2 separate regions of the Homo sapiens genome follow, and region 2 is linked to region 1. Evidence: fine-mapped expression QTL. Tissue or cell type: prefrontal cortex. Region 1 holds a variant in brackets; the other region holds the start of a gene. All regions are shown on one strand. Distances are between the middles of the regions.

Evidence for each region. PIP is the estimated chance that this variant, and not a neighbour inherited with it, causes the effect. A credible set is the group of variants that fine-mapping cannot tell apart.
Region 2: it holds the start of NRAP, and the variant in region 1 is the best candidate, but not a certain one, in a credible set for the expression of NRAP in prefrontal cortex (ROSMAP, PIP 0.53).

What each region holds. Positions count from the first base shown.
Region 1 is chr10:113,607,869-113,613,156 of GRCh38, reverse strand. NRAP (nebulin related anchoring protein) reads left to right here. Exons shown (of 42, transcript NM_198060.4): 30 at 726-923; 31 at 2,594-2,698; 32 at 4,645-4,743. Among named protein-coding and RNA genes, the nearest start is that of NRAP, 54 kb to the left of the region's middle. RefSeq lists a silencer at 1,853-2,147. The variant A/G (reference allele first, on the strand shown) is at 2,642.
Region 2 is chr10:113,661,656-113,666,943 of GRCh38, reverse strand. NRAP (nebulin related anchoring protein) reads left to right here and starts at 2,903. Exons shown (of 42, transcript NM_198060.4): 1 at 2,903-3,133; 2 at 3,498-3,592; 3 at 4,178-4,265. The coding sequence starts at 3,062.

The DNA.
Region 1 (5,288 bases):
TAGGAGGTCAGGGAGGGGTGGCCAGAGCAATGAAAGACAATGGAAGGACAAAGGAGGATGAGGAAGAGGTGGTGATTCTGCATCTGATTATTCCCAGAGTTTCCCAGACCTTTAAACACAGCTCCTCCAAGGACTATAGTCGAATCTATGGTCTGGAATGGGTCTTCCCCTCCCTCTCCCAGGGTGTGTTTTGGGTTTTGGGGAATGCCTATCCCTGAGGCTTGACTCTCCAAGCATCCTCCCCACTGCTCCTGGCTCCCACGTTGGCTAGGAAAATCATTGAATGCTTTGAAGAAACTCTTCCTAAGCTAGTGTGAGAGGAGAATCCCTCGTGTCTGAACTTGAGTGGGCGATGGGAAAAAATATGGTGGGCAGGGAGCGATGCATCTTCTTGCCTCTGAAAAATAGAAAGATCTAAAGATTTGAGCAAGGGAATCACTGACATTATTTACTGTTCCTTGGACTTTTGTATGTTCCTCAAATGAGGGAACCATGGGCCTTCTTCATCCAGATCAATGACCTCCAGGAGCTGGGGGTGGTAAGTGTCAGGGCCTAGAGACAAGCCCTGGTTATTAGGCCAGTCTCTGCAAGAAAGGAGCACTGGCCCTGCCAAGAACTTCCCCTGGGCTTACCTCCAGACAACTGCATTGCAGTTGCCCTCCCTGATGGTCCTGTTGCAAATAGTGGCTTTGAAATAGCTGCTGTTGCTCTGTCTGCCCCTCTAGGTGAATTACAAGAAAGGCTTTGAACACTCAAAGGCGCAGTTCCATCTGCCGTTGGACATGGCCGCCCTGGTGCATGCCAAGAAGGCTCAGACCCTGGCCAGCAATCAGGACTACAAACATCCACTGCCCCAGTACACTTCCTTGGCAGAAGACCTGAGGCTGAGCTGTGCCAAGAAAGCTCACAAATTGCAGAGTGAGGTAAGGAGACCTGGCCTCTTTCTCAGGGCCCCTTCTTCTCTTAGGACCTCAGGGTGGTGACCTCCAGGCTCCTGTTGGCTCAGTGAAATCTCTGGAAGTGAGAAATCCTAAACCCAAGTCTTATTTTGAAACCCAGTCTGAGAGTTCCTGCACATCCCTTAAGCACAGTTACACAAATCTAATCATAACCACAATTTATTATTTTTTGCTGCACTCTAAGCATTGTTTTATGCATTATCTCACAATCAGCCCATATCATTAGTTTATTCTCATTTTACAGAGAAATTACAGTGAAATGCAGAGAAGTTAAATATCTTGTCCAAGATCACACAGCTATAGTTAGAAAGAGAGGGCTGGGATTTGAACTTGAGGTTTGAATGACAAAGATGCCCTCAAGGTTCATGGTTGTGCATGTTTAAGATTTGCCAATGATATTGCCTCTGGCCTCAAGTCTCAGGAAGGATTCCTCTTGGTGCTTCATGCGTTCCTGTGCCACCCGCCTTCTGAGGAGGGCTAAGATCTGTTGGGAGAGGCTGCTCAGAACCTGTCAGGACTGACGCACTTCAGGGAGTGGAGAGGGAAATCAGGGCCCTGGAGACCCTCCTTGGGTCCCTTTGAGGAGTCTTTGTACTCCTCTGACATGCATTTCTCACTCGTGATCCCGATTTCTGAAGCAGACAGGCCCAGGAGGGTCAGGAAGCATTGGAGACTTCCTCACTCCCAAGGAGAGCCAGAGTGTTCTTCCCAACAGGCATCCACATCCTGTTCACTACTCACCTTATTTCCCAGCTTGCTAGGTTTCCATGCTATGAGATTTGCAGGTAATGGGCCCGCTTAGGAAAAGAAAACTCCGCACAAAACCTCTTTCCTGGTTTGGCAGTGCCTGCGATCTGAGCGGCACTCAGATCTGGGTGTCTGTCGTCTGTTTGGATTTTACGCCTGTGTACAGCGTTTACTGAATGACATAAACTGTCAGGAACCTGAGAGCAGCTGTAGGAACGAGGGAGCTGCCACGCTCATCTCGGGGGCCCGTTTGTCACTTGAGCGGAGCCCTCACTTGCCCTGCCTCTGGTTGTGATAGCGATTGGAAGGCAGGACGCCCAGGGGGCGCCTCACTGGCTGAAGGGGAGTGAATGTGGGAACTCTTTAAACTGTCAGCCCGAATCATTCAGGTACACAGACTGGCCCCCACCCACACGAACTCAGGCAGGCCTTTGCCAGATTCTTTTGGATTTATTTATTAGTTCTTTCTTAACCCATGATTAATTAATGCCACCCGCTGCTGCTGAGTTTTGTTTTAGAAGACCTGTTAGACCATTTCCACATTTGCCCCAAGACAACTGACTTTCTAACCACAATCCGCTTCAGTGTTTATTTTTTGATAGCCCACATTAAAATAAAAATCTGTCTCGCTTCTGTGGAACAGCTACTCTGAGACAAGTGACAGCAGAATTATTTTCTTCTGACCTACATTGCTTCCCCCCTAGTGAGCATTTACCAAGAAGTGTTTGTGCGTTGGCTGAGTTTAATATATCCGGAGGGACGGGTTCAGCCTTGAGTTCTAATTATGACGCTGTCAGATGCTGTGTCATGAGACCTCTGGTTTTGCTTTGCTTCCCTGTTCTGAGAGCTTGGCTTTTCTGATTCTTTGTATTTATTATTTCTTCTAGAATTTGTACCGGTCAGACCTGAACTTTATGCGAGGTGTTGCATGTGTC[A/G]TTCCAGGCACGTTAGAGATTGAAGGGAGGAAGAAAGCATCGGAACTCATCAGTGAGGTAACTACAGATGCTGGTGTTGAGTGTCCAGGACATTTCCACAGCAGAGGATAATCAGTTTGTTTCTTTCCTTTTTCTTTCTTCCTTTTTTTTTTTTTTTTTTTAATTTGAGATGGAGTCTCGCTCTGTCACCCAGGCTGGAGTAGAGTGGCACGATCTCTGCTCACTGCAACCTCCGTCTCCTGGGTTCAAGCGATTCTCCTGCCTCAGCCTCCTAGGTAGCTGAGATTACAGGTGAGTGCCACCATGCCTGGCTAATTTTTATATTTTTAGTAGAGATGGGGTTTCACCATGTTGGCCAGGCTGGTCTCGAACTCCTGACCTCAAGTGATCCACCTGTTGTGGCCTCCCAAAGTTTTGGGATTACAGGCGTGAGCCACTGCGCCCAGCCAATCAGTTTGTTTCTTACCACTAAAGCCAGTTGGATGTTAAACTCTTAGCAGCAGTGACTCACTCCGTAACCCCCTGGGCTGGACTTTTTTTTTTTTTTTTCTTACTGGATTCTCCATTCAGACTGCATGCCATTTAAGACAGCTTTGAGGATATGGAGTCAGTTCCTCTATTAACATATAAGGATTATTCACTGGCCCATGCGATATTCTCTCTGTGTCCCTTTGAAGAGTGGCCCTGTGGTACAATGCAAACAAAGCAGCCTTTGAAGACCAACAGAGAGAGATTGACATTCCAGGCCAGCACTGATTTGCTGTGTGACCTCAAGCCAGTGACCTACACCTCTCTGAGCCTCCACTTCTTAATTAGTCAAATGGGTATACTCAGACCCCTCTCTTTTAATTTTTGTGAGGATTAGCACTAATCTAAGCACTGTGCTTTTCTGGCAGCTGTATATGAAATGGTTACTATAAGCTTGAAATGGTGATAATTTCTTGGTAAAAATAAAGAAGTCTTAGAATTCTAAGCTTTCTGATTTCCTGGGGAATCTTGCTCACCCCTGGGAGGGTGACAGGACTTTAATTCATGGTAGATGCAGGGACAAGAGGGGATAATGGAAGGTACTGGAAGTAATAGGTGTTCAGCAGTCAGCCTGAGTGCTCAGATAAGCTTATGTTTTGCCTGCTAGGGGAGTTTAGATTTAACCTCATGCTTTGCTTTTCCAGAGAAATCTCTAAAGCAAGTGGTCTCTGTACCTCATGGTGCATCAGAACCTTAAAAAACCTTAAGAAATGCAGAGGCCTGGGCCCCACTGACTAATTTACTGAATCCCAGTCTCTCAGGGTGGGGTGTAGGCACACCTATTTTAAAGTTTTATTTATTTTTATTTTAGTTTATTTATTTATTTATTTGAGACAGTCTCACTCTATCACCCAGGCTGGAGTGCAATGGTGCGATCTCAGCCCACTGCAACCTCCGCCTCCCAGGTTCAAGCGATTCTCCTGCCTCAGCCTCCCAAGTAGCTGGAATTACAGATGTGCACCACCATGCTCAGCTAATTTTTGTATTTTTTAGTAGAGACAGGGTTTCGCCATGTTGGCCTGGATGGTCTCGAACTCCTGACCTTAGGGGATCCCACCGCCTTGGCCTCCTAAAGTGCTGGGATTACAGGCATGAGCCACTATGCCTGGCATGTCTGTTTTTTTAAAGCTGCAGTTTGTGATATGCCATCAAGGTAGAGGAGCACTGGTTCTCTGTCCAGCAAAGATCTGGAACAAACCACAAATTTAAATAGTCATGTTCACATTCATGGCAAAGGACTAAATCTCCCTTTTCCATTTAGAAGGTTCTGATTCAGTCCATCCTATCCTCCTCTCTGCTTCCTCATCCCAGTGAGTTTTGGGGTCACAAAGGCAGGTGACAATCTGGATTCTGGAGTGATAGACTTGCAGCCTTTGCAAAACGAGGCTTTATGGCTAATACTTAAAGAACTGGTTCTGCTTCTGGTTTTTATCCCTTACGGAGTCGTCTTCTTCCCTTCTTGTGTGTGAATTCAGAGTAAATATCGGCAGCATCCCCACTCATTCAAGTACACAGCTGTGACAGACACTCCCAACCTCCTTCATGCGAAATTCAGCAACCAGATAACGAATGAGGTAAAATCTCCTGATGGCTTTGGAATGGTCTTTTTAAAAACTGCTCGATTGTTAAAAATACACGTGAATGTGTTTGGGGTGAGAAAGAGCATGGGTGTTTATGTGGAGGTTTGGAAAGAAAAGAATGTCATTATATGGAACCTAAACATTTTCCAGAGGAAATGAAAGCCCAGTTGGGAATCTGGGATTGTCTGTAGTCTTGCTTTCCAAGTGCAATCCCAGACCAGCTACATTAGCATTGCCTGGGAGCATACTGGCAAGGCACAACCTCAGATCTACTGACTCCAAATGGTCATTTGACAGGATCATAAGATGATTCTTTGGCACATGAAGATCTGAGAAGTACTGGTCTGTAATTCATTTGTTCTATCTAGGCAAATATTGGCTAACCAATTTTACATTGTCAATCTGATGTGGGAGGATTTGTGGTTATCCAAGGACAGTTAAATTGTAAGATGTTTGTCAGGCTTCTCAATTATCTACCTTCTCCTCTTCTCACTCACCATTTACCCAATTTACACTTTCATGTATCCAGCAGAGGGCAG
Region 2 (5,288 bases), 54 kb before region 1:
TTCAAAAGGAAACTACTTGCCCACATACTGAACATAAAAGTCATTAATGTGAAACAAAAAGCTCCCTATGAGTCAAGACTTAAAAAAAGCCAGAGCAATGTGGGGTGGTGTGGGCCGAAGTTCCCAGATCAAGGCTCCACAAGGCTCTGCAAGATCAGGCTCCAGCTCACCACCACCAAGCCCAGGTCCAGGACTCTGCTGAGAGCCCAGTGCATCAGACACCTGGAAGGGCTGCTTTAGATTCACTCAGCCTCACCTTCCGTAGGGCCTTTGCCTACTTGAGCAGGCTCAGCCTCGGTAGTGGCCACTGTCTCTATGAGGGCTCTGGCCATCTTCACGTGGGCACAACTGACAGTGTCTTTGGCCTTCTGCTGCCCTTGGTGTTTTCCTGTTGATACTGAGGTGCGAGATGCCATGGGACTCCCTGTGTACATACACAGCATGGACATTAATGGCCAATGGGGCAAACCTTTCACCAATGGGAGACAGGACCCTTCCTTCCTCTGGTAGATGTTCCTGAGTAGCGGTTGTTTATATGGCCCCTTGGAAGATGGTCAAGCCATTCAATACACTTTATACCAGCTGGTGGCCCCGTTGAGAACAACCCTAATACCAACTGTTCCCTGCCCTGCATTTCCTGCCTTCTAACTCTTGCTCCCTGGATTATACTTTGGAATAAAGTCCTTGCATATAAGCCTTTGACACAGGTTCTGTTTTCTGGAGAACCCAGGCTAAGACTGATGTTATCTGAACCAACTCCTAAGGCCAAAGGAATGTGGTATGCTCACTGACTTGGCTTGGACGGCCTGCTGTAATCCCTGCGTCAAGTGGGAGGGGCTTAGGCCAAGGAGCAGGAGGGGCTGTATATAACATGAGAAGGGTGGTGTGAACCAACCAAGACTCGACTACACAGTGAAGTCTGTGTTTGTCTTGCCCCAGAAATGAGTGTTTACTTCTAGTTCCTTAAACTATCCCATTTCTAGTTCTATGGGGTTGTTTCTCCTAGCAATTTCTGATGTCTAATAAATCAGAAGTGATGGTACAAATCCAGTTTAGCATCTTGCATTTTGTAATTCTTGTGTTCACAAATGTGACCAACCCGTTTTAACGGCTACAGATTGCAATCACAAGCTTAGGCAGAGAAGGAACGTTGCAAGCTTCTTTTTTAAGTGAAATCCTCCTGATTCCTCAGCCCTCCGGACTGGGGTACAGTTCATTTCAGTGATTATTGGAGCTTCCACCCCACCCACTAAGTAAGGCTTGAGAAGCCTGGTGCAGAGCAAAACAACCGGGGAACCCTGCAGGTCTTTGTGCTGTGCCCATTGCTGTTCTCATTTGCAGGCTGGTGGCAGCCCTCCTGCCCAATCACGTTTCAGTGTGGGAGTCTTTGCTGAGCCTGGAGTCCCTGCTTTGAGTCCCCTCCCCATGCTGAGAGAGCCCTAGCCCCATGTGGGAAAACCTGAGACTCCGCCTTCCCCTTATACTCATGTGGACTTGAATGCTACTCTTCTTCATTGGCTTTAGAGCTTCTTCCTACCCCCTGGCTATCTCAGCACAACCCCAAAATACTACTCATCTTACTCCACCCTACCTGGGGACACCAACCTAACCTCAGAACATTTAGGGCCAAGGTCACAAATTGGTAACCTGCTGGCCAAATACTGCCCACGACTCTGTTATATTGTTTTATATACAAAAAGGGGAATTTCATTTGTAAATGCAGACTTCTGGTGTGCTCAGAATATTTGGAAAATATTCCGGAAAAATCAGGATATTTGGCAACCTGGAATGTTGATTGTTTCATGATGACAGTTGGCTGGGACTGAGGAGCAGTTGCCTGCTTCAGATGGGATGAGTGCTCATCTATTTGGAAAAGTTCCTACCATTATCTAGACTTCATACCTGGCCTCTATAGGCATTTTGGTGTGAGTATTAAATTTATTTCATTAATCCAATAAATCTTTATTAAGCACCTTTTATTGGCAGACCTTGTTCTAGGCATGGGGGATATAGAAGTGGCAAAAAGGACCAAAGATCCTGTTTAGACAGAACTCATATTTTGATGGGAGAGACACAATTTTTAAAAATAGAAACATTAACATGTAATATGTCCAGCTGTGATTACCACTATGAAGACCATCAAGCAGGCTAAGAGTAATGGAAGATAATGAGATAGGAGTGGGGACAGGTGAGGTGCCATTTTGTATCAGGTATTTCTATAAGGTGATAAGGTGACATTTCAGCAGAGACTGAAGGCAATGAGAGGCTTCCCAAAGCCAGGAAGAGAGATTCTGTCTTCATATCACCTCTTTTAAGGCCTGTGAGGCAAGGGAACAAGCACAAAGGCCTTCTTGGAACATTCTAGAATAAAATACAGAGGCCAAAACACCAAGAGTTCTCATTAGTTTTTAGTTTTGCGTTCCAGTAGAAGCTAAACACAAACTAACACCTTATTAAGTTTTTAGTTTAACTGTTGTAAACGCTTTGGGTAGGTAAAGTTAAAATTCAAGTGTGATATTTATCCATTTAAAGGAGTGAATCAATCCTATTTTATTTTCTATATTTTTGGGAGCTGGCCTTTCTGCTTTAGTCATAGGACGCATAGAGCAAGCTTTTCTAATTTGATTGTTGGATGACGGTGTGGCATCTTCCTTTAGGTTCTTTTCTTGGGTCATGATCACAGCTAGTGCTAAACCACTCCATGCTGCCTGATCATACACCAGGGTTTGGTTATCCACATAAACATGATGCTGTTGTGAGTTCATTTTTCTATTTAGAGAAGCATGTCAGCTAGAAATACTTCCACCTTATTTCCCAGACACATGCGTGCTGAGTGAGTGGCCAAAATAGCCCCTTGAGTAAGTGGCAGCTTTAAAAACCATCCAACTGCTGACTTCAAACTAGAAGGTCAGCAAAGGAAAGTGGAAGTTGGATTCTGAAAGATCGAGGTGCCCACAGGAATTTTATGGTCGTCGGATTTTGAAGACTTGAACTAGACTGGGGGTTCTCCTTGCATTTCTTGCCTGTTGCCTATCTTTGTCCTCTCTCTTCCGGCTTCGAGATGAATGTGCAGCCCTGTTCTAGGTGTGGGTATGGGGTTTATCCTGCCGAGAAGATCAGCTGTATAGATCAGGTCAGTAGACATTTCTTGGCTTTTGTGAATAATAACAAACACAGGAAATTGACCTTCTCACATATGGACATAGGTAAATATGGAAATTTAATTTTCAGTTAAATTGTTTTGAACCACAAGAAAAAGTTATATTTTCTCACCTTTATTTAGTTCTACACATTTCTATTTCTTCTGTGTTGTCTCAAAAAAAAAAAGTTATCCATTTATTTAACCGTGAGTGTTGTTATAGCTGTGTGTGTGGATTTTAATTTTTTTAAAATCAGCATTTTATCCTCGAAGTTCATTTTTTTACCCTAAAATATATAAGAACCTTGAGTCTGGGGGGAAAAGGGTAATTGCTAAATCTTCTCTATATGATTTCTAGATATGGCATAAAGCCTGTTTTCACTGTGAAGTTTGCAAGATGATGCTGTCTGTTAATAACTTTGTGAGTCACCAGAAAAAGCCGTACTGTCACGCGTAAGTGTTTGATGCCCCCACCACTACCTCTTGAGTTTTATTTGTTTTTCAACAAGGAGCCAACTAAACGTTCAAATCATATAACCCAGGGTTAAATCCAAGAAATATCTTCTCCCAAAGTGTTCCCTTGTATCCTGTCATTAAAGAGACCTAAGGTGGGATTTTATGCAATGGACACAAAACTTCAAATTTCTTCCAAGTAAAAGATCAAATATATCCACTATAACCTCATGTCAAATTATTAAATACTGTGCAGAACAATGTAATGGCCATAAATATGCATATAGAGCTTTGAAGTATTTTCTTTTAAATAATTTCAGAATCCTTTTTTACTTTCTTCAGAAAGTTTTCAAGTGATCATTTCCAGTTAAATTTAGGCTTTCAGTTATATATGTCGATTTTATTTGATTTGCTTTTTTTTCTGTAAGATGCATTGCCTGGAAAATCACGAACTTAATTTTTAAGTTTTACATTTATTGATTTTTTAAAAATAACTGTTATTATTTAAAAATAATTTTAAGAATAGTCCCTCAATCATTTGGATAAAGTACATTTCTAATTTTGATTTATACCTATTTGTTGTAGCCATAACCCTAAGAACAACACTTTCACCAGTGTCTATCACACTCCATTAAATCTAAATGTGAGGACATTTCCAGAGGCCATCAGTGGGGTAAGTTATTTAATTTTCAGTGGGATGGAGGGTATGGAGAATGATTGGTTACTGGGTAGAAACATGCAAATAGATAAAAGGAATATATTCTAGCCAGGCACAGTGGCTCACACCTACAATTCCAACACTTTGGGAGGCCAAAGCGGGCAGATGGTTTGAGCTTGGGAGTTAGAGACTAGCCTGGGCAACATAGTGAGACCCTGTCTTTATTTCTTAAAAAGTTAAATAAATAAAAGAAGGAACATGTTGTAATGTCCTATAGCAGACAGAGTAGGATGACCACAATTAACAACAATGTATCATATATTTCAAAATAGCTAGAATAGAAATGATAAATACTCGAGCCGATAAACACCCTAAATGCCCTGACTTGATCATTACACATTCTAATATGTAACAAAATATTATATGTACTCCATAAATATGTGCAAATATTATATACCGATTAACAATGCTAGGCACATGTTAAGTTTTTAAGTGTCTCTGTCTGCATGTGAACCTGCCCATTTCCTCCACATACACATGTAAAGTGCATTTGAGTAACAAATATGACTGTTTGTTCTCCCACAATATTAGGAGCCAATATACAGGATAATCTAGATTGAATAATTGAGGTCCTTGATTTCAGTATAATCTTTGTGTCTTGACCAGCTCAAGACTGTTTCATAAAATGATGACAGTTTATAGAGTAGGCTCTGCATATACTAGGTGCTTAATACATAAAACAATGCTTACGTAGTTGGAACATATTACAAGGATCTTGACTTTTCCCTGTGACATTCTGGTACACAAAATTAAAACCTTTAGTTTCACACTGTTAAGTCTCTCTGAATTCAGTCATTACTTATGATTATTGGCAGCCTGTTTTCCCCTTGGGGTGGGGATAAGTCAAAGATGTTTTCCTTTGGAAAGGAAGTTTAGTTTAGGACGTGTGGGGTTGAGATGGGGAGGTAAATATGGAGGCCACATTGCCAAATCCAACCTCTTGAAAATCTAATAGTGGAGTTTTGTCAAATAACCAGT